Regions from separate parts of the Homo sapiens genome. Here region 2 is linked to region 1. Evidence: fine-mapped expression QTL. A gene starts in region 1. The other region holds a variant in brackets. All regions are shown on one strand. Distances are between the middles of the regions.

The links. PIP is the estimated chance that this variant, and not a neighbour inherited with it, causes the effect.
Region 2: its variant is fine-mapped to the expression of KANK4 in tibial nerve (GTEx, PIP above 0.99). The same link has a PIP of 0.9 or more in esophagus muscle, gastroesophageal junction and sigmoid colon.

What each region holds. Positions count from the first base shown.
Region 1 is chr1:62,313,585-62,325,881 of GRCh38, forward strand. KANK4 (KN motif and ankyrin repeat domains 4) reads right to left here and starts at 5,850. Exons shown (of 10, transcript NM_181712.5): 1 at 5,522-5,850. RefSeq lists enhancers at 4,443-5,167, 5,168-5,890.
Region 2 is chr1:62,388,919-62,401,215 of GRCh38, forward strand. No RefSeq gene overlaps it. Among named protein-coding and RNA genes, the nearest start is that of USP1, 42 kb to the right of the region's middle. RefSeq lists an enhancer at 11,928-12,297. The variant A/G (reference allele first, on the strand shown) is at 6,672.

The DNA of each region.
Region 1 (12,297 bases):
AAATAATCTCTTAAAAATTCAAACATTACACCGCATGTTCTCATTCATAAGTAAGAGTTGAACAATGAGAACACATGGACACGGGGAGGGGAACATCACATACTGGGGCCTGCTGAGGGTGAGGGGCAAGGGGAGGGAGAGCATTAGGACAAATACCTAATGCATGCGGGGCTTAAAACCTAGATGACGGGTTGATAGGTGCAGCAAACCACCATGGCACATGTATACCTACGTAACAAACCTGCACGTTCTGCACATGTATCCCCAAGCTAAAAGTAAAATAATAAATTTTTTTTTAAATTTAAACATTGATAAAATGCCCTCCCCATTCATACTCAACGTCGTACCTAATAACTGTAGACCCTGACCACACTATTATATTCAGCCACTACCGAACTTGCCATTCCGTCTTTTTGTTTTGTTTTGTTTTGATTTGTTTTGTTTTTGAGATGAAGTCTTGCTCTTGCCGCCCAGGCTGGAGTACAGTGGCGCGATCTCGGCTCACTGCAACTTCTGCCTCCTGGGTTCAAGCGATTCTCCTGCCTCAGCCTCCTGAGTAGCTGGGATTACAGGCATGTGCTACCATGCCCAGCTAATTTTTGTATTTTTAGTAGAGATGGGGTTTCTCCATGTTGGCCAGGCTGGTCTCGAACTCCTGACCTCAGGTGATTGGCCTGCCTCAGCCTCCCAAAGTGCTGGCATTAAGGTGTGAGCCACTGCGCCCAGCCTCCATTCTGTCTTTTAAACCTTTCCCCAGGAGTAGGATGGCTACATTTTCCAAGGCAGAAGGGAGAGCGGGGTGGGAAACACCGATGAACTGAGCGCAGCGCCTGAAAACACTCAGCCCTGCTGCCTGGTGCCCTGCTAGGAACATCCAAATCGATGGCACCGAGAGCTGGCGTCTCCGGGCTGCTGGGCAGAAACCAGGATGTGGAGGGGAATCGGCACCGAAGGCTGCTCTTTTATCCTTGTGTGGAGCAAATTCTCCCTATGCTGTATTTCTCTCCCCCCTTGTCATTTGACGTCAGAGCCACAAATTAGAAATACATACCAAAGGAAACTCTGCAGACACAAAGGATCCTTCCATGCAAAGGGGGAAAAGCCACAGCCACATTAAAAAAAAAAAAAATCTATCCAACCAACAAGTTTTATTTACTTTTGGGGAAAAAATGAGGAGAGTGATGGAACTGGGATTTGTGTTTTCTCCCACAATGCCTGTGTCTCCAGAAAGCTATTTGAGGGGGCAGAGCCCAGGGCCTGGGCGAGACAGTGAAGTGATCCTTTTGAAAACAGGACTTCTTTCTCTTGGAGAAGGAACGCTCGGCCAGCTTCTTCAGACGCCACCAATCTATAACTGCCCATGTATCACATTCACCATCTACGTACTTTAAATCTTGGACAGCATTTATTTTATCCTGGAAACTGTGACAGCCCTGTTTTTAGCCGGAGGGCCCCTTTTCTCTCCTTTAATCCTACTTTGAAATATTATCTGTGTAGACTGCAGGCTGTTCACAGAAAGGCCCATTAGAAGCCTCTTAGTCCAAACTTGGTCTGGGAGATTGGCGTCCTGAGGCACAGAGAGGTTATGGACCAGCTGTAAATCACACAGCTGCTTGGCGGTGAATCTAGGCTCCAATCCCAGGATACACTGACCTCCAAACCCATGCCTCTTCCCACAAACTCTACTACAGTGTAGCACAAAGTGGTTAGCCGTCTGATCTCCAAAGACAGAGGGCTCTGTGAAATCCCAGTTTTATGGTCATTTAATATGGACCATGACCCTGGGCAAGTCACTTAACCTCTCTGAGCCTCGATTTCCTTACCTACACATTGGGGATTATGGCAGTAACTAACTCTAGGATAAGGGTGAGGCTTGACTATGCCAGGGATCGACACACATGTACATTATGATATTGTACTGTTCCTGTTTCACACACAATCGAGTGGCTCTGTGATAACTGTATCCACGCCATCATCCAGAAATTGGCAAGAAAGGATTGTTCTCAAACCCATTGTACAGATAGGAAAATTGAGTCCCCCCGCCCACAGATGACATAACTTGCACAACATCAGAGTTTTAAAAGTAAGTATATAGGTGGAGGCTGCAGTGAGCCATGTTCATGATACTGCACTCCAGCCTAGGTAACAGTGAGATCCTGTCTCAAAAATAAATAAATAAAAGTAAGCATATTCTCAGCACTAAGAAGTCCTAAATATCCTCCCCACCATACCTACCGAAGTGCAGGTTGAACTAGGAGTAAAAGTTGCCTCTTCCCTTCCCCCTGCAGAGCAGAGCCACGAGTGCACAAGCACATACTCCATGGCCCTGTCTTGTAAACTGGAATCAGCACGGGTCCTGGCACAGAGCAGAGGCTCAATGCAGTTTCAAAGAATGGGTGAATTCCTGAATCAATGAAAATCCCAATCTGCTAAGAAAGGGGCCAGGCAGGCAAGAGCTCTGGTAGCAGCAAGCAAGAACCCCGTTCTCTCCTTAGCCTGTTCTGCAGGAAGAAACCTTTGACAAGGTCAATAGCTGGGCCTCTGATCTCAATGGTCCACCAAGGGCGTCCCCCAGTCTGGCCCACATGGCCCAATCCAGGACCCAGGAGGTAACTGTGAAGCACAAGTGACCCTCCTCCAGCTAAAACAGATGTAATAATATTGCAGGCAAAGGGCGGTGAACAGGCCAGGGAGAGGGCCCATCTGTCTTCCTAATTGTCAACTCTGCCCATAATATTTTTCTCCCTGTCACACCTTAGGCTGCTACTGAACTGAAGCAAAACCAAGATATCCATCTTCCAGCCATGAGCAGTGGCCTTCATAAAGTACCAGGAACGAAAAGAGGCTGCTTGGCTAAGAGAAGCAGACAGAGCTGGAAGGAGCTTTAAACTGCAAGTCAGGAGCTTAGGAATCCCTACTCATAGCCAGCTGTGGGTACTTAGGCAGTCATCGCACCTCACTGAGCATCCATTTTCTGTAAAATTGAAGTCCAAAGTTTTGGAAATGGGTTAATGGAGCAGGGAGGTGTGAATCATGTAATATTGTATGCAAGATATTTTAGGTTTTATGCAGTTGGAGGAGAGTATCCATAATTTTCATCAGAATCTCAAAGATATATGCAATAACCACCATCCCCTCCCCATATAAAAAAGTTAAGAAATACTGGACAGGACAGTTTCCATCCAACAAGCATTTTTTGAACACCTTCTATGTGCCCTGCTCTGTGCTAGGTACTTGGAGAGCCCTGTTTTTAAGGTGCTCAGTGTAGCTGATGTTTGCTGTGACAGAAGCATGTCCAGGGAGCTTTAGGAACAAAGAGAAAGCAGCATTTGCCTCTATCTTGTCAGGAAGGGCCTTCTGCAGGGGAAAAAACCTTATGTTTAATGCCGAAGTTCAAAGCTAAGAGTGCATTCACTGGGTGGGCAAGAATAATATTTCAGACCAAGGGTAGTAGTATGTGCAAAGGCAACGCGTGGCCCAGGAACCACTTGAAGCATAATTGTGCTGAACATATTGAAGGTGCTCATTGCAAGGGGCCGGGAAAGTGTTAGAGCCAGAAGTGAGGCTGGGAAGGCAGGTAGGGCCCAGATGAGGAAATGCCATGTATGCCACCCTAAGGAATTTTACACTGTCAGCAAGTTCTTTCTAGTTTTAAAAGTCTAGGATGAGCCACCACTCCTAGCACAAATCTCCCTAAATGTTGGGCAGAGGCTTTGGTTCACTGTGAGCTGAATGGACATTAGGGAATGAACCGCTCGCTGCTCTTGGCACCACGAGCAGGCATGGGCTGTCTGACCAAGGTGCACACATGGGGCAGTGAGTCCAGCAAGGTGCTATTGGTCTATCTCTCTCCTTCTCCCCACACTATGATCTAGCCAGGGGACTTCCAACTGCTCATTATTACAGTTCAGAAAGGAAGGCACTGACTGGACCAGTCAATGGGATGCACAACTAAAGGACTGCCCATTTGGGCCCCTGGTAGTAACTCAGCCAACAGAGGCTTTCAGTTCCTCTAACCCACTCTGCTACTCACCTTAGGCCCTCTCACACGCGGCTACTTCTGCCTAGAAGGCTCATTCCACTCTCTCCTGTCATTCTGCAGACTGACCGACTACTGGACCTATCAGGTTTTCAGGGTATCTAGTCCTTTCAAAGAACTCAGCACTGGAGAATTCTCTATTTATGTGAGTGATTTAATTCCTGTTGGTGTTGGCCACTGGAATGCAAGCTCCATGAGGCCAGAAGGTGCCAGTTTTGTTCACTTCTGTACCTCACTACGTTGACCAGTGCCTGGCACAGAGCATTTGTTGATTGAATCAGTCTGGTCTGATCCCCGAGCCATTCCCCAAAACTCACTTTCCCCAGGTCACATTATGGTCCAGTGAAGTGGGAAGGCTGGGCTTGAAAAGGCAGTATTAGAACGGACTCTGCCTCCATTCCCAGTGTAGCTTTCCTGTGTCACATTTTGAGAGGCTCTAAGCAACCTGGGCTTGATTTACCCAAGCAGGTCCTTGGGAATCGTGTTTAACTCAAGATGCTTTCTCCCCATGCCTCAGCCGGGTCACTGGCTGCATCTGATCCTCCTCTGGCCCTATTTGGTAGATAGGACTTTGCCCAGGCCTCAGGGGGTCCTCCTCCCTCTCCTGGAAAATACTCCCTCTTTGCCCTAAAGGCTTGCACTCCAGGGCGCTTAGGAACTAAGACTTGAGTTTGGCAGCCCCGAAGGATGCCCAGGGCAAGAGTTAGGTTCAGACCCAGCGTAGCGGCCATGGGCTCGACTTTCCAACTCCCATTTCTGGCCAGTCTGCGGGGTCAAAGTACCCAGTCACAGATTTGACCTTACCGGAGAGGCAGAAGGGAAAGGAGCCCACAGGAGGCATGCGGGCTGGGCAAAGCGCCCTCGGCGGCGTCTAGAGCACTCGGAGCTGCCCCATTGCCTCCGCCCAAGGTCGCGGCCCAAAGGGAGCCCTGGAAAGTTCAGCCAGGGGCCGAGGAGTGCCAGGGTTGGCACTACGGGGAGACTTTTGCGACAGGAGAGAGACTAAGAGCTCGATTCCAGGTAGCAGTGGGAGCCCGCGGCAAAGAACGCCCAGTCCCGCAGGCTGCATCCCAGACCGCAGCGCCTAGCTCGGAAAAGCTGGGCGGGGGCTGCACCACCTGAGTCGCAAGGACAGCACGGCCTCCCCCTCCTCACCAGTGTTCTCCACCCCCAGAATTGGGGCGCGGAGAGCCAATCTGGGCTGGAAAGGGAGCGGCGCCCACCTTTGGGCAGCCCGAGCAGCCCCGCTCCTTTTCTGTCGCAGACCCCAGGCTGGGAGGCGGGGGCGCCAGGTCGGCCCAAGCTGCCGCAGCCACTGCTTTAAAGGGAGCCGGGGACGCGGCGCTGGGGACTGGGCGAGGCGGGTGGCAGAGGCAAGAGGAGAGTGGTCGAGCGCCGGGGCCAACACTCGGGTCGCGCAGGGCGGGTGTTGAACACCCCAGCAGACGCACTGCGGGGGACTGGGGTCGCAGAGTCCCTTACCTTGGCGAGCTGCGGAAGTCCTGCGCGAGGCGGCCCGCGGTGCACGGGGCCGGGGCAGCTAGGCGCACACCCCGGCTTCGGAGCGCACGCAACCTCCGGGTGCACTGTCCGCGTCCCAGGCGCGCACCCCGGGGCTGGCGCACCCTGGTCGTCCGCGGCGCGCACACCCTCCAGGCGCCCTCTGGCCGACGGTCTCGGCCCTGGCCCCGGCGCACCCCTGCGGGCACACCCACCGCGGCGGATGCGGGACTGGCCAGGCGCCGCCAGCCGCGGCTTCGCCCCGCGTCGCCAGCTGCCAACAGCGCCCGAGTCCCCGCCTTCGCTAGGGGAGAAAAAAAAGACTCCTGACGCGGCGCGGACTTTGGTGTGTAGGAAGGGGCAGAATTGCGAAACCGAGGGGAGGGTCTTAGCCTCGATAAACTCAAAAGCCCTTGATAAACATGAGCTTAGAAGAAAAACTTTTTGAAAAGAGACCAAAAACTCCTAACCTGTTCATAGCGCTTTTCAGATTCCCAAAGTGCTTTCGTATGCGTTTATCTCGGTTCATCTAGACATTTCCATCCTCATTTGATAGGTGCAGAAACAGCACCAGACAAGGTAATGACTTGCCCCAGCCAGGACTGGAACCTAGGTCTGGCCACTGGGAAGCTGGGTGCAGTAAGTTAGGTCCTCGCCAGCGGATGTGGGCCAGTGAGGGCTGGGGTCCTAGTAACAGAACTTTTACCTCTCCTAAATCGTCTTTTTCCATCTCCTTTTTTTCTTCCCAATCCTTGCTGTAGTCCCACTCAGGAACCCTAAGTCTTTCATTTCACACTCCGACCTCCCACCAAAGGTTTGTTGTTGTTGTTGCTGTTTGAGACGGAATCTCGCTCTATGGCCAAGCTGGAGAGCAGTGGCGCGATCCCGACTCACTGGAACTTCCGCCTCCCTGGTTCAAGCGATTCTCCTGCCTCAGCCTCCCGAGTAGCTGGGACTACAGGCGCACACCACCACGCCCAGCTAACTTTTGTATTTTTAGTAGAGACGGGGTTTCACCATGTTGGCCAGGCGGGTCTCGAACGTCAGGTGATCCGCCCACCTCGGCCTCCCAAAGTGCTGGGATTACATGCATGAGCCACGGCGCCCGGCCCACCAGAGTTTTTTATCAGTTCAAAATGTTTGCGTTTCAACCGCTAACCTTGAATGAACAGTTCACTAAGTGCCTGGTGGGCGTTGTGCACCCTAACCCTAGGAAAAAGGAGCTGCTGCTACTCCTCCTTTACAGATGAAGACAACAGAGATAGGCAAGTAGAGGGCCGTGGACCCCGTAAGACTCCGGATGCCAGCTCTGACCCCCACAATGGGCATCCTTCATGGGCCCATTGGCAAGGGCTAACACTTAGGCAAAGGGGTTTCGTTTTTGACATTGTGACCCAGATGGGGGAGTACTTTCTAGGACTTTCATTTTACGTTTTTATAGAAATATGGTTATTTGAACGATTTCACTTCCACTAGAGCTCCACTGGAGCAAATCAATATCCCAGAGCAATAATAAATGGCAGCAGAGACTTGGTCCCAGTGTTGGGACATAGTAGGGAGTGGTGGGGACTGTGGTGAGCTTGATAGCAGCTCCAGGTTCTTGCCCAAGGGAAGGGGCTGCTGCTACTCAGCTCAGTCTATTTTGTCATCTAGGGAAAGGGATTCATGTGGCCAGATCCTCCCATTTTGAAAAAGAAGCCATCAGCCGGACACGGTGGCTCACGCCAGTAATCCCAGCACTGTGGGAGGCCAAGGTGGGTGGATCAGCTGAGGTCAGGAGTTTGAGACAAGCCTGGCCAACATGTGAAACCATCTGTACTAAAAATACAAAATTAGCAAGGTGTGGTGGTGCGTGCCTGTAATCCCAGCTACTCAGGAGGCTGAGGCAGGAGAATCACTTGAACCCAGGAGGCAGAGATTGCAGTGCACCGAGATCGCACCACTGCCCTCCAGCCTAAGTGACAGAGCAAGACTCCGTCTCAAAAAAAAAAAAAAAGCCATAAGTCAGATATTTAAGTGAAGGCCCCAAATTTGTTAGGAGCTCATTTGTATAATGCTAAACACTTTCTACATAGGTCAACACTGTTCAAGCCAAAGGAAATGGCTTTATGGATCAGATCCAGCCTACAGGCCAGGGGTTTGTGCTCTCCTGTTTGGGGGCACTTCACACTATTTTCATTTGGGCTTCCCAACATCCCTGTGGGATAGACCCAGTGTGGATCATATTTCCATTTTAGGGAAGAGGAAGCCCAGTTCAGGTGGGCTCCAGAACTGGCCCAAAGTCACACAAGCAAATTGGTGGAGCTGGAACTGAAACCAGACATTCCACAACTCCTGGTCCTGGAACCTTTTCTCTGGGCATTCTCTGATCTCATGGAGAATTTGTTTCTTGGTTCTGGGTATTGTGAGCCAAGTTAGGCATGGGGCTGGGACTGGGGTGTGGAGACAGCACCTTTCCTGGGAAGATGGAGCGGGAGTGCCAGACTGCTGTCCTCGAAAGCAGGAGACCAGTCTGATGACTCAGAGATGAGACTGTGTCTTGAGGGTAAAGCTGAGTCAGAGAAAGCAAGATCTGAACTGGGACAGCCTGGGCTTCTGAAGCCCAGGTTAGGGTATTGAGAAACTGGGAGAAAAACAGACTAAGCAAATCCTCTATCCCCACCCCCACTCCCCCCCCACCTCCCCACCCCACACAAAACCAGAAGCCCCAGACACCGAGACACCAGCAAGAACATTGCTTACTATTCCTGTCATGACAGGAAAGCATCAGGAGTTAGACTGTAAGGGGGCCCCTTGTATGGTCCTGGAAAGAGGGAAACTTTTTCAGGCAGCAGATCTCTAAAATCTCAGGTTTGGGCATCTCCACTGCAGGACCCAGCCTGGGCCTTTCAGACGGAGTGAGTACTCGTGTTGAAAACTGATTTAGAATGACTGGGCACAATGCTACTGCAGTCTGATCCTCCGTAATCGAAGGACTGAGCAGCAGACAGAATGGGGCATCTCTGTGCCTTTACTGGAGTTTGGGGTCATGTGTAGGAGGATTAATACTAGTCACTTTTGTGAACCCAGAAAATCTGAGACAGTTCTCAGTTAATTTAGAAAGTTTATTTTGCCAAGGTTGAGGACGTGCCTGTGACACAGCCTCAGGAAGTCCTGATGACATGTGCCCAAGGTGGTCGGGGCACAGCTTGGTTTTATACATTTTAGGGAGACATGAGACATCAATCAATATTGTAAGAAGTACGTTGGTTCGGTCTGAAAGGTGGGACAACTTGAAGCAAAGGCAGGAAGACTCTAAGTGAAGTGGGAGGGAGCTTCCAGGTCACAGATGCGTTCTTTGGAGTTTCTGATTAGCCTTTCCAAAGGAGGCAATCAGATATGCATCCATCTCAGTGAGGAGAGGGATAACTTTGAATAGAATGGGAGGCAGGTTTGCCCTAAGCAGTTTCCAGCTTGAGTTTTCCTTAGTGATTTTGGGGACCCAAGATATTTTCCTTTCACACTATCTACCATGTACTGGCATTTCACATACATGACACAATCTCACTGGGACTCACAACAAAACCGAAATAGCTATTCTCTTATTGAGGATCTGAGGCACAGTGTTACTTGCCTGAGGACACACAACTAGTAAATTGGGGAGGTAGGATTCAAACTTACATCTTTGTGACCCAAATATAAACCTCTCTAACTGTAGGCTTGGAAATTGGGGCCAACATGGAGATGTATCACTCAGATCCCACTTTAAGACAGGACTGCCAGGCTGCAGCCATGTGGTTTGCTGGCAGCCCCCAGTGTGGTGAGCTCCTGCAGTCAGTGGTGTATTGGTAATGTTTAACAACCAGCTCTCTGGGCGCGGTGGCTCACACCTGTAATCCCAGCACTTTGGGAGGCTGAGGCTGGTGGATCACCTGAGGTCGGGAGTTCAAGACCAGCCTGACCAACATGGAGAAACCCCATCTCTACTAAAAATACAAAATTACCTGGGCGTGGTGGTGCATGCTTGTAATCCCAGCTACTCGGGAGGCTGAGGCAGGAGAATTGCTTGAACCTGGGAGGCGGAGGTTGCGGTGAGCCAAGAGCGTGCCATTGCACTCCAGCCTGGGTAACAAGAGCGAGGCTCCGTCTCAAAAAAAAAAAAAAAAAAAACAGCTCTTAGCAGGGAGAAATGTGTGCATATATACAGTGGGTTCTCAGTATTCTCTGTAGTTCTATAAGTTCTATAAAGTGGCTTCAAACACTGAAATCGTGAATATTGAACCATTGCTCTTAGAGGAAATACAGAATAAGGTTCCTGAGGGCCTCTGGTTACATTTTCATCAGCCCATTAATATCTAACATTGTTTTACCTGTATTTCTGTTTAAAGACTCCTTATTCAACATATATCAGGTATGATTCTGACATGAACACTGATTGGTATTTTTGTTTACATTAAGGATTAAAATGAAAGTAAAAGAACAAAGGTGTATATTGGGAACTTCATTATTCAATAGCATGAGTGACTTCTTTGTGAATCAGATAACTGTTTTCAAATACTAGAATATCCCTCAATATTTTGTACTATTTACAATGTACAGACATGGCACACTTTTAAATTTAGTATGCAATATTAACCTTTCTCATTTACTTTCTTATGTCTAGAACACTGTACAGGTTTTTGTGTGAGCATAAATTTTCGTTTCTTTAGGATAAATACACAGGAGTGAGACTGCTAGCTCGTATGATAAATGTATGTACAACTTTATAAAAAACTACCGATCTGGGCGCAGTGGCTCATGCCCATAATCCCAGCACTTTAGGAGGCTGAGGTGGGAGGATCCCCTGAACCCAGGAGTTCGAGACTAGCCTAGGCAACATGGAGAAACTCTGTCTCTACAAAAAATACAAAAATTAGCCAGGCAGGCTGGGCATGGTGGCTCACGCCTATAATCCCAGCACTTTGGGAGGCCAAGGTGGGCAGATCACCTGAGGTCAGGAGTTCGAGACCAGCCTGGCCAACATGGTGAAATCCCATCTCTACTAAAAATACAAAAATTAGCTGGGCATGGTGGCAGGTTCTTGTAATCCCAGCTACTTGGGAGGCTGAGGCAGGAGAATCGCTTGAACCCAGGAGACAGAAGTTGCAGTGAGCCGAGATCACGCCACTGCACTCCAGCCTGGGCTACAAGAGTGAAACTCCTTCTCAAAAAAACAAAAACAAAAATTAGCTAGGCATGGTGGTGAGGCTAACATGGGAGGATCACTTGGGTCCGGAAGGCAGAGGTTGCAGTGAGCTGAGATTGTGCCACTGCACTCCAGCCTGGGCGACAGAGCAAGACCTTGTCAAGAAAAAAAAAAAAGAAAAGGAGAAAGGAGAAAGAAAGAAAGGAAAGAAAGGAAAGAAAGGAAAAGAAAGAAAGAAGAAAGAAAAGAAAAGAAAAGAAAAGAAAGGAAAAGAAGCTACCAAATTTTCCAGTGTGGCTGTACCTTTTATTTATTTATTTATTTTTTTTGAGACAGAGTTCACTCTTGTTGCCCAGACTGGAGTGCAATGGCACAATTTCGGCTCACCACAACATCCGCCTCCTGGGTTCAAGAGATTCTCCTGCCTCAGCCTCCTGAGTAGCTGGGATTACCGGCATGCGCCACCACACCAGGCTAATTTTGTATTTTTAGTAGAGATAGGGTTTCTCCATGTTGATCAGGCTGGTCTTGAACTCCCGACCTCAGGTGATCCACTCGCCTCAGCCTCCCAAAGTGCTGGGATTACAGGCGTGAGCCACCATGCCCAGCCATGGCTGTACCATTTTACACTGCCATCAGCAATGTACAAGAGATCTGGTTGCCCCTCATCCTTTTCAGCACTTGTTATTATCAATGTTTTAAAAAACTTTAGCCATCAGTGTTTAGAGATATCTAAACATAGCTTTCGTTTGTATTTCCCTAATGGTTAATGATCTTGAATATCTATCCATGTGCTTATTTGCCATCTGTATTAGATTTGTTTTTAATATATTTTATTCAATTGTAATTTTACATAATTTAATTTGTAATAATGACTGTCTTTAACAACTGGCTCATAAAATTCCTGAAAATTTCACAATCAGCTATTGCGAGCCAGAGCAAGCTGGCTCCAGCACACCCCTTCATCTGTCTGGCTGAGGTCTCCGTGGCCTCTGGGCAGCTCTCAGGCAATGACTGAGCAAAGAGGTGGAATGAGGCCTCACCATTTCCCCTCAAGGCAGGATTCCTTTCTGGACAGTCTGCTCAGAGCATCGCCATTTGACAGCTCTCCCTGCCCAATTCTGCCTTTCTTTCACAGGGGCTGTTCCTGATAAACTTCCCCAACCGTAACTCTCTATGCATGTTTCCTGGCGAGCCCAGCCAGCACAGAAATTCTGTCTAGTGACACGGCAGCCTTTCTGCCTCTGCCACCGCTGATTTCACTGCCACACTCGCTTAGGCCCTTTGAGCTCCTCACCTAGAAAAACGCACATCAGCCCAGAGGCGCCACTATCTCAGCAGTCCGAGCCCACGCAATGCTCCCGGAGCTGGGCCAGTGGGCGCCTCAACCCCGATTCACCTATGTGCACTGCTGTGTGGTGAGAGTGGTTCCCTGGGTCATTCTCTGGCACAACCTAAAAGTGGAAGTGCAGAAATCTCAATGTCCCGAGGAGGTGATGGCTGTGGTTGAGCTCAGTTGGGGTGGAATGTCCATGATGGTTTTTTCACATGGCTGGTTGACTAATGCTGGTTACTGACCAGGAGCTCAGCTGGG
Region 2 (12,297 bases), 75 kb after region 1:
ACATTATGTATGTACCTCCTGATGGAAGTACACAGCATCTATGGAGTATTCTCACCAAAAAAGCTTAAATTGAAATCTGATCAAGCCTCTAGATCTATTTAAAAATTTATAGGACATGCAGGGGTCAGAGGAAGATGAAATCAGCAAAAGACAGACTATATGGAAAACACTATGACATTGGTCCAGTTTCTCCAATGAATAGGTTGCAAGGAAAGAAACAAAAAAAGAAAATAGTTGAAGCCTGTAAATTAAAACAGACTTAAACATATCAGCTGTACAATACATGCATTTTATTTGGGTCCTGATTCTAACTAAAAATAGTAAAACAATTATGAGACTTTCTTGTATTCAGGAAAGCTAAATACAGGCTGGATATATAACAATATTAAGGACTGTTCATTGTTTGGTTGGTTTGTTCGTTGGTTTTGTTTTGTTTTCAGACAGGGTCTTGCTTTGTTGCCCAGGCTGGAATGCAATCTGTGATCTCGGCTCACTGCAGCCTCAACCTCCTAAGCTCAAGCGATCATCCCACCTCAGCCTCCCGAGTAGCTGGGACTACAGCATGAACCACTACACTCAGCTAAGTTTTTGTAGAGACTGGGTCTTGCTATGTTGCTGGTCTCAAACTCCTGGGTTCAAACGATCTGCCCGCCTTGGCCTCCCAAAGTCTCCCAAAGTGCTGGCATTACAGGTGTGAACCACCGCACCAGTTTTTTTTGTTTGCTTGCTTGTTTTTGTTTTTGTTTTTTAGAAACAGGTTCTCCCTCTGTAACTCAAGATGGAGTGCAGTGGCACAATCATGACTCACTGCAGCCTCAACTTTCTGAGCTCAAGCGATCCACCCTGCCTCAACCTCTGGAGTGGCTGGGACTACTACAGGCGCACACCACCACACCCAGCTAATTTACTTTACTTTTTGTAGAGATGGGGTCTCAGTATGCGCCCAAGCTGATCTGGAACTCCTGGCCTCAAAGGATCTTCTTGCTTCAGCCTCCCAAAGTGCTAAGGTTACTGGCATGAGCCACTGCACCAGGACTTTTAATGGAAAAATGATATTGTGCCTGAGATTTGCTTCAAAATAATCTGGGGTGGGGGGGAATGGAGGGCATGGAGGAAATGAGAGGGGCTGTGAGTTGATTGCTGTCAAGCTGGATGGGGGTTTCATGGAGGTTCATTGTGCTATTCTCTCTACTTTTGCATACAGTAAGATTTTTCTATAATAAAAATAAATGTAAGTAGGATTGATTGTTCCTCCTCTTGAAAGGATTCACCTTGCACATTCTTGAAAGGTGGCCAAGGAAGCCACCCCTTGTCCCCGTTCCTGTGGGATGAGGTATGTCTGGAGCGAGCAGAAGTGGGTGTGACTCTGCCCTGTCGCGCACATCTACTGAAGTCTTGAAAAATAACGGAACCCAATACACATTGAAAAGTGACTTTCTCCAACATCAAGTTATTGCACCGTTGTTTGGTAGGGTAGGGAGCAACAGAGGACCATGACGTCAGACTCCAGAACTCAAACATTTTTTCCCCTTCTTCACTGAAAACTCAGACCGTCTTCACATTTTGTTCTGAGACCAGGAGGAAGATCTGGGGCTCTTGGCCAGCATCTCCTTCTTGTCAGGATTGGCCTCTTTGTTTCCATTTCTTTAAAGAATGAAAAAGAGCAGAAGAACCTAGAAAACATTATGCACCTTTCATAGAAATAAAATACAAGCATACTATGTCCATTTCTCATAGACACTGGAGCCAGGCGCTCATTTTATTTTCAGATATGTGGGAGAATCTTTTGTTAGATACTCAGCCCAGCACAATGGGGAGAAAACAGGATATACATGTATGGTAACTAGGTTGTAAATAGATTTTAATCCCTTGAGCCAGCCTACCTTTAGTTCCTAATGCCCTGCCCCACAATGAAATTACATGGCCAATATCCTAGATCTCAGCTTTTCAAAGTTTCCTTCTTTACGCAGTCCTGGAATTCCTTACGTGCTTAGAAACAAAAACAATTTTATGATAAATGACTCAAAAAAGAAACAACTTTGCAATAAACTTTCAGCATTTTCCCGAACAGGAGAGTAACAGTCCCAAACAAAGCCACCCAAATTATTTTCCTTGCTTGCTGAGCTGCAAATCTTTGTTCTGCACGCTGATTCCTGATCCATGGTGCCCTTTTCATTAATTTGCTGGCAGATTTGAACCAAATCTGATTCCCATCCTTTCCATAAAACCTCCGATCTCTCCTGAGAGCCAAAGTCTGGGCCCAGGAAGTGGAGTTAGAAACAAAAATGAATTAACACTGAGTAAAAAAAAAAAATTGAATAAAGCATGCTAAACCTTCTTCATGGCTTCTTTCCTTTAATACTCATCCATCCCTCTGAGGTGACTGCTTTAATTCTCTTCATTTCATACATGGAAAAACTGGAGCTGAAAGGGGTTACAGCTAGTAAGAGGCTGAGCTGTGACTTGAACAAATTTCTTTTTGACTCTAAAGCTCAAGTTTATAATCACTGTAATAAACCCCTTTTATCAGGAGGCTTTGGAAGGACTTATTTACATTAAAAGTAGCAGAACTTTGCAGAAAAGATGCCAAGGCAGCAAGACATAGTAAGAAAGGGCACATATGGTTGTGCATGCTGAGCCCTACAGAGGGCGCTGTTTGCATTATAGTTTATGGGACTAGCGTCCCTGGAGTTGTGCTGAGCACTGGCTGCAGCAGGACCACCTGCCCTGAATGAGCATGGGCTTTGAAGTTTCAATAAGCTCCTATGATCTTTGACCGTGGGTAAGTTGCTTGGGGCTGACAATAAATGCAGAACAGATAATTCTGCTAAGATGACTGCTACCCTAGTGGCTATGGCAGTGGTTATGAATACAGACTCAGGAGTACTGTACTCAGAAAGCAACCTCTCCCAGTGTGTTCTTCCTGAGTGTAGAAGATCACTTTGTCTTGTATTTGGCCAAGTGCAGTTTCCTTCTCCTCCCTCTAAACCTCTAAATGCAGGAGTGCTTAAATCTCAGTCTTTGGGCATCTCCTCTACCTATACTCATTTTCAAGGTGAACTCATCTAGGCCCATAGCTCAAATGCCATCCACATACAATGACTCCCAAATTCTATCTCCAACTTTATCCTCTCCCCCAGCTCCAGACTCTATCTCTATCTTAACCTCTCCACTTGGGCATCTGATAGGACTCTGACGTGTCACATGATTTAAGACATCTGGAATAGAAATCTTGCTTTCCGCTCCTCACCTGCTCTTCTCCCAGTCTTTCTCAACCCTGTAAAAGACACCACCCTTCACCCAGCTGGCTCAAGTCGAAAGTCTACAAGTCAGCCCTAACTCCTCTCCTTCTTTTAAATCCAATTTCAATGCAAGTCCTATCAATTCTGCTCCTCAACATTTATCCTTATTCAGCCTCTTCTCCCCAGATCTGCTTGCTGCTTTTGTGTGTGTGTTGATAACTTTCATGAATCATATATTTTATTTTCCCAGTATTATAGACTAGATGTTTGTGGCCCCCCAAAATTCATACGTTGAAACCTAATTCCCAAGGTTTTGGTATGAGGTGATGGGCCTTTGGGAGGTGATTAAGTCATGAGGGTGGAATCCTCATGAATAGGATTGTGCCTTTTATTTTTAAAAGAAGGCTCCAGAGAACTCCCTTACCCTTCCACCATTTGAGGACACAGTGAAAAGATGACCATTTATGAACCATGAAGCAAGGTCTCAGCAGACACCAAATCTGCCGGCATCTTGATCTTAGACTTTCCAGCCTCCAGAACTATGAGAAATAAATTTCTTTTGTTTATAAGCCCCCAGTCTATGCTAGTTTGTTATACCTGCCCAAATGCACCTAGATACATTTTGTCTTTCAGTATGTAGGTTATAATTTTCCCTTTAAAAACAGTGTCTTCAGGGGTGGGTCCTGAATATCAAACTTTTATTGCTCTCAATTTCAAACCAGTATAAACACCTAATCCTAGTCCTGCTTTGACCACAAGCATCTTATTTAATTTTTTATTTATAGACAGGATCTCACTCTGTCACCCAGGCTGGAGTGGGCTGATCTGGAGGAGAATCAGACAGAGGCTGTGAGATATTCAGGCCAGTTTTTGACACATTGAGCATAAGGTGCTTTGGTATAAACAGAGATTTTTTAGTCGGAAATTGGTGGTGCAAGATTAGAGTTTTAGAAAATGGTTGCTGCTCAAGGTACACATTGAGCAAGATCATAGCTTACTGTAGCCCCGAACTCCAGGGCTAAAGTGATCCTCCCACCTCAGCTGTCCAGCTACTTTTAAATTTTTTTTGTAGAGATGAGGTCTCTCTGTGTTGCTTATGCTGGTCGTGAACTCCTGGCCTCAAGTGATCCTCCCACCTCAGCCTTCCAGAGCACCAGGATTACAGGTGTGAGCCACTGTGCCCAGCCTGACCACAAGCCTCTTGAAGGACTTGGTCTCTTCTCACACCAACAGCTTCTTCCCAAGCCACTCACTATTCCATCCTCTATAATCTCCTCCACCCAAAATTGACACTGCTCTTGACAAGGCAATGACTTTCTAATTGCCAAATCCAAAGGCTTATCTCTAGACCTAATCATACTCGACTCTCGGATCACGGGAAATTGCTGATCCTTCCTTCTGCTCTGGATCCTGCGGCCCCTGCATCCTGCATTGCTCCAACCCCTCTGGCTCAAAGGTGTCAGACTTATTTGATTACTCTTCTTGCAGACTTTACCCTTGATCTTCCTCTCTTCTCATTCTTCACCACTGGTTCTTAAACTTATTTTTTCAAGGACACCTTTGAAAACATGCTAGAAGCTATGAGAGAGTCATCCCTAAAATAAATAAGTAAAAATGCCTATATTCATGGACACATAATACCCTAAGTAATTTCAGGAGTTTCTTCACACCCTCAAGCCAAGTTAGACCCTCTGCTCTACTTTCTCAGCTGGGGGGGTGCCAACCACCCCCAGGGCTTCCATCATCACCCATATGTTGATGGCTTTCAAATGTGTACCTTGAGCAGCAACCATTTGCCAAAACTCTAATCTTGCACCCCCAATTTCCAACTAAAAAATCTGTTTATACCAAAGCACCTTATGCTCAATGTGTCAAAAACTGGCCTGAATATCTCACAGCCTCTGTCTGATTCTCCTCCAGATCGGCCCATTGCATAATGACTCACCATTCGCCCCATTACCAAGGAGGAATTGGCTCTTCTTCTCCCTCCTCTTGCTGCTTCCCAGGCTCCAGCCTTTCTCATCTCTTGCCTGGATTACTGGAGGAGCCTTCTGCTTGATCTGCCTGTCTCCCTCATTGCCCTCTTCAAACCCACCTGCTACACTGCAGCGAAATTTATCTTCAGCCTTTCCCTGCATCAAACCCCATTGCTCACAGCAGTACTTCCCCAAGCGTGTTTCAAAGAATACAAAGTCTCCATGATATTATATGAATGGAAAAAGTTTTCATGGTCAATTAAGTTGAAGAAAAGAATGAAAATTAGTTAGGCTTAATTACATCTCAGAGTCTTCAATATGCTAAAACACATTTCGGAGCTCCAACTGGGAGATATGAAATAAAGCCTTTGTCAAACTATGTGGCAACAAAAGAGCCTAGTGTACCTCAGAATACACTTTGGATGCCACTGGTCTATGAGCTGAACTTTAATTTCCTTGTCCATCTCTTTTTCTTTTTGACTTCTAGCTGCTATTTTTGATAGTGTAGACAATGGGAGGAAGGACAGCAGTGGCTTCAGGAAAACTAGCGTTTAAATCTCAGCACAGGACTTCTGGTCAGATTATTTCTCAGGACATGCGCCGTCTAGTGTCCCTGGGCCTCTCGGGAGGCTGAGCTCTGTGGGCTGTGGCACCAGGCGCCCTGGGCCTCTGGCTTTCAGCTGAGTTTGGGCATTGGAAAGCAGTGGTAGCAGAGGTGACGGGAGGGTGTTCATTCCCCACTGCCACCTTCCCTCTGGTGGTTCTGCAGTGCTCCCACACTCTCCCTGATCCCAGCTCTTGTCTGGTAGGGGTGACTTGCCTTCTCTTCCCCTTTAGGCCTGGGGGTGATCATGGCTTCCAGCTGCTACTAACCCCTGGGGGCTCCGTCATCGCTTGTTAGCCCCCTTAATTCTGCCCACACCTTTGTAAATAGTCCATTCCTTAAACTCTTTTCAATTAAACCTTCTGAGTACGCCATCCTGTCTTCCCTGATGGAGACAGGACTTTAGTCTCCTTACAAAATGGGGATGGTAACATCTACCTCATGAGACAGCTGAGAATGTTCTGTGAAAGTACCTGAGGTGTGCTGCACCCAGTACAATGCCTGACCCCCAGCAGTGCCCACTGAATAAGAGATGACTACCCCAGTCCTGCCAGTTGTCCAAGTAGTGACCTACTCAAGAGTCTCTCTGCTCCCTTGCCAGTGATCCAGGCTGAGGTGGGCAGAGGGAAATTATGCCAGGCCCCAGTCTGAAGAGACCAAGCAGCCATCAGGACGCAGGGTCCTGTCAGCAGTCACAGAACAGGACTGACCTGCAGGTCCTACTCCAGGGCCCCGGAACAGAGGATCCTAACAGGGATTGGAACAGCCAAGGGTCAGGGTGTTTCTGTGCTCAGCATTCCTCTTGGAAGAAAGCAGCCTCTGTGCTGGGCCCAGATGGTCTGGCCTTCC[A/G]CACTGGCCAATTGTTTCGCGAGGAGGAAATCCTTCCAGCTTCCAGTCTACTCCTTGTCCCCCACTGAAGTGATCAAGTGGCCTGGAAGAGGGGGTGCTATTTGGAAAGGGAGGACACTTGAATTAGGTTTCCGGTACATTTCCCAACAGGCATACAATGGGGAAATTTTAAAAGGGGTTAATAAGCCAGGTGCAGTGGCTAGTGCCTGTAATTCCAGCTACTTGGGAGGCTGAGGCAGAAAGATCACTTGAGGCCAGGAGTTCAAGACCAACCTGAGTAACAGCAAGACCTTGTCTCTAAAACAATTTTTTTTAATAGTAAAAAAAAAGGCCAGGCGCAGTGGTTCATGCCTGTAATCCCAGTATTTTGGGAGGCCAAGGTGGGCAGATCACTTGAAGCCAGGAGTTTGAGACCAGCCTGGCCAACATGGCAAAACCTCATCTCTATTAAAAATATAAAAATTAGCTGGGCGTGGTGGTTCATGCCTGTAGTCCCAGCTTCTTGGGTGACTGAGGCACAAGAATTGCTTGAATTTGGGAGGCGGAAGTTGTAGTGAGCTGAGATTGTGCCACTGCACTCCAGCCTGGGCGGCAGAGCAAGACTGTGTCTTAAATAAATAAATAAAATAGTAATAAAAAAATAAAAGGGGCTGGGCACAGTGGCTCATGCCTGTAATCCCAGCACTTTGGGAGGCCGAGGCGGGTGGATCATCTGAGGTTAGGAGGTCGAGAGCAGCCTGGCCAACATGGTGAAACCCCGTCTGTACTAAAAATACAAAAATTAGCCAGGCATGGTGATGGGCGCCTGCAATCTCAGCTACTTGGGAGGCTGAGGCAGAAGAATCACTTGAACCTGGGAGGTGGAGGTTGCAGTGAGCTGAGATCGCGCCACTGCACTCCAACCTGGGTGACAGAGTGAGACTCCGTCTCCAAATAAATAAATAAATAAAAATAAAAGAGCATTAACAGAAATGATATGTTAGAGAACACTTAGTGAATCTGCAGGCAGGCAAATTTATTTATATTGAGCCCTCATATAGGAAATTAATGTATTGGGTGTGTTGAACAAAGCATACCTGACTTATGGCACGTAATCAAAATGCAGTTTTATTTTGTTTTCTACTGTCTCTTTAAATCAATTCAGTGGGTAAAATTTTCACAATCTCTCGAAAATCAGGGAGTTTTTCTACACTCTTAAAGCCAGGAATAGACAACCTAATTCAGAAACAAAACAATACAGTATGGTATCCAACACCTCAAACTTCACTCTAGGGCAAGTCTTCTTTGCCTTCTCCCCACCCAGGTGCTCTCTGGTACAAAATTGTCTCCCAGGACCAGGATCCCTCCTGTAGCAGAGGTGCCAGCTGAAGGAAGTCTGAGCTCTCCCATCACCCTGGGGCCTCAGCGATTTAAAATGTAAAATTTCTCCCAGCATCAGGGAGTCCCCACGTTGATCTGCCACAGAGAGACGTGACTAGTCAAACGCCAAATGAGAATGCAGAAAAAGAAGCCAAGTCAGGAGGGAGGCGGGCCTCTGCCTGGAAAGGGAGCAGGGAAGGTTTCATGGCTCTCTTCCCCGGGGCTCTTTGCCTTCCCATCCCAAAGTGGGGCCACAGGCCCTGGGGACCCTGAGGCTATCCCAGCACTGCCAAGGATCTAGCTCTGGTAGCACAGGATGCCCTGATGTCAAGCAATTCACGAGTAGGATAGGATAGTGGGATTCTTAACTCTCCACAAGCCATAGTAAATGCAAGCTTGGGGGCCAGGAGGAAGGAGGTAAGAAGGAGAAGGTGTCACACGCCAGGGCCAAATTAAATATCTCTATCCCCCAAGACACTGCAGGACTCTCCATGACGTGCTAGCTAAACAGGCTGAGTTGCAGCTCTAGAAATTTATTTTGAGAACCGCAGATCTGTGGAGATGGTGAAATTGCAAGTCTAAACAAATCTCTTTGTCAAGTGAGGGCACAGGTGGGTGTGGATGACATCCAGACACCTGGCTTGGAGCTATTTGGGAGGACAGGCTATGAAGGAAACCCTTGGCCAAGGACCCTAAATATTTTTCTAACTTAGAATGAGAAGGTAGTGGTCATAGCCCCTCCATTTGATCCCAACCCCTTCAACCTCCCCCAACCAGACCCACTACCTGGAGCCCCTGGTGTGGTAGGCAGAAAAATGGCCCCTCAAAGATGTTCATGTCTTAATCTACTGAACTGGAGAATGTTATCCCACATGGCAAAAGGGACTTGGCAGATGTGATTAAACCAAGGATGTTGAGATGGGGAGATTATCCAGTGGGTGCCCCCAGTGTCATCACAAGGGTCCTTATACGAGAGGGGTGGGAGTGTCAGAGTCACAGAAGGGACTGACAGCAGAAGCAGAGTCAGAGGGAGGCCAGCGTTGGCTTTGAAGATGAAAGGGGCCATCACCAAGGAATGGACAGCCTCTAGAAGCTGAGAAGACAAAGAAATGACTTCTCCCCTCAGAGCCTCCAGGCAAGTACAGCCCTGCTGCCTCCCTGACTGTAAGGTGGTGAACAGATTTCAGACTTCTTCGGAACTATAAAATCATTAACTGTGTTGTAAGACACAAAGTTAGTACCTGTTACAGCAGCCATAGGAAACTAACACATGTGGTAAGAGAACGTTGATATGGTTCTTTCAGGTTCCTAAAGGCCCAGTTAAAAATAATCCTGATGAGAAGACATCACGCCACCCACCCACCCACCCCACTCCTGTCCATTTTACTGTGGGAGAGCCCACTTCCAAAAGCTGGATGTTTCAGGGTTGTCCATATCCAGAACTTAGTCACAATCACGGACACCACAGGGTGTCCCAGTGTGAAGTATAGCCGTCCCACTTCATGGGCTGACGCCCCATCCTGGAGTGGATGCATTTTGATATAAGGATGAGTTCCCTTTTAGAAAGAAAGCACCAATCGAGACTTTTTTCACCAATTATGACATTAGTTAAAGGATCATGGTGACTCATAGGGTGGTGGGAAGAATGAATGGCCAGCCTACATAATTTCTCGATGAGAAACATCAGCAAGTGCTAAATGGTATTCGAGTATTCTTTTTTTTTTTTTTTTTTTTTGAGACACAGTCTTGCTCTGTCGCCCAGGCTGGAGTGCAGTGGTGTGATCTTGGCTCACTGCAACCTCCACCTCCTGGGTTCAAGCGATTCTCCTGCCTCAGCCTCCTGAGTAGCTGGGATTACAGGTGTGCACCACCACGCCCAGCTAATTTTTGTATTTTTAGCAGAGAGGGGGTTTCACTATGTTTGTCAGGCTGGTCTTGAACTCCTGACATCAGGTGATCCACCCACCTCGGCCTCCCAAAGTGCTGGGATTACAGGCGTGAGCCACTGCGCCCCGCCTAGTATTTGAGTGTTCTTGAGGAAGACATCAGCAACTGGAAATACTGGGGATAAAAACACATGCCAGCCTAAGATCAATACTCAATGTTAACATTATTAGAACCATGTAAATATTATTCCCAGATGAGCCATATAGTGCGTTGTGATTTTTTATATGATACAATTTTTTGTTTTCTGTCAATAATTGCCTTTGTTTTGTTCCATTTCTTAGGTAACCATCACTATTTAATTTTCAAACTCTGGAACTAAGTATAAATCTCCTAAGATGTTTAAACACATGAGGCAATCTGAAGTGTTCTTTTTTTTTTTTTCTTGGTTACTCCTGAATCCCTCCATCATCCTGGTCCTCTCTGGACCGCTCCTCTTTAGGGTGATTGACAGCAATACCTCTTATGCTGGATTAGCTTTGCTTCTGGACTGAGAGTGCTACATGGGCTGAGAGGTATCCTAGAGAAAATTGCCTTGGAGTATGTGCCAGTTCTGATTTTTTCCTGAAGAGACTTTATGGCCTCTATTCATGCAGGGAACATTCTCAATCACATTGTATTTAGCCTCATCCTGGACCAACTCTCACATTTTTTAACTGACAATGGGTCAAGTAGACTTGGCCGAAGATGGCTGGCAGGGTCTCAAACTTTTTAAGTGAACACAGACTTGAAAAGAAGAAGCTGTTAATTGTGCCCTGAGGGTAGACCTGGCTCCCACTGTACAAGGGGGCTCAAGCACATACCTGGTTCATCACCCAAAGTGGACCCAAAGTGGGCAAGGATAGTGAGGCTTTCACCCAGGAAGGGGAGCCACATTATCACCTGAGTCCCTAAGATCAGATAAATAAATGAAGGTTATTTAAAATGGTGACAAGATGGGGCTGGGTGCGGTGGCTCATGCCTGTAATCAAAGCACTTTGGGAGGCAAAGGCAGGCGGATCACTTGAGGCCAGAAATTCAAGACCAGCCTGGCCAACGTGGTGATACCCCATCTCTACTAAAAATACAAAAATTATCCAGTCATGGTGGTGCACATCTGGTTCCAGCTACTCAGGCTGAGGCACGAAAATCACTTGAACCTAGGACATGGAGGTTGCAGTGAGCCAAGATCGTGCCACTGCATTCCAGCCTGGGCAACAGAGCGAGACTCTGTCTCCAAAAAAATAATAAAATAGGCCGGGCACAGTGGCTCACGCCTGTAATCCCAGCACTTTGGGAGGCCAAACGGGTGGATCACGAGGTCAGGAGATCGAGACCATCCTGGCTAACAGGATGAAATCCCGTCTCTACTAAAAATACAAAAAATGAGCCGGACGTGGTGGTGGGCACCTGTAGTCCCAGCTACTCGGGAGGCTGAGGCAGGAGAATGGCGTGAACCTGGGAGGCGGAGCTTGCAGTGAGCCGAGATCACGCGACTGCACTCCAGCCTGGGTGACAGAGTGAGACTCCATCTCAAAAATTAAAATAATAATAATAATAATCATAAAATAACATGCTGAATTATTTTTTTCCTTTTTTCCTAATTTATTAGTCAATTGTCCTAGAAAATGCATTCTCAGTAGGGGTGACAAAACCATTACAATCGTTTGTGATCTTGCAAAGGGCCATGGTACATACACAGATATACAGTATATCTGTGATATTAAAACTTTATGGGGAGAAGGGTAATTTTTTAAAAAATTGGCAAAAAAGCTTCCTTAAGGGGCAATAAAAAAGACTGAGAAATTTCATTCTAGAGATTACTGAATAAATACCAGGTGTAATTACTGATCTCTTTATAGTAGGCTTTTTAGTTTAATCATTAAAATTGGAGTCGGAAGTGTTTTCTGTTTTTGTTTGTGATTGGAAAAATAATTCCTACAAAAACTACCTCACAACAGAATCCTTCAATAGTCATGGCCCAGGAAGCTGAGGCGGAAACAAGAAACCCAGGTGTTACCTATTGGTAATTGTCCAGGCAGTAGAAACCAGAGAATGAGGGAAAACCTTGTATATGAAGTTCACCAAGTCATGAGATGAGGGGTAGCTGTCCTTTTTCCAGGACACTTGGTGGTGAGGCTACTCGTATTCTCAGCAGTCATCTGGAATAACATACTAGTGCTAATGGGTGGGTCCTTTCATTTTAAGTTGTGCCATCTGTGGTTGTGACCTAAGGGCCCTGGCAATCAACTATACTGCCACTTTCGAAAATCTTACAGTAAAAATTGACTGAGAATAATTATACATAATCAGCTGTCAGAGGCAAACAGGAGCCCTGGGGTAA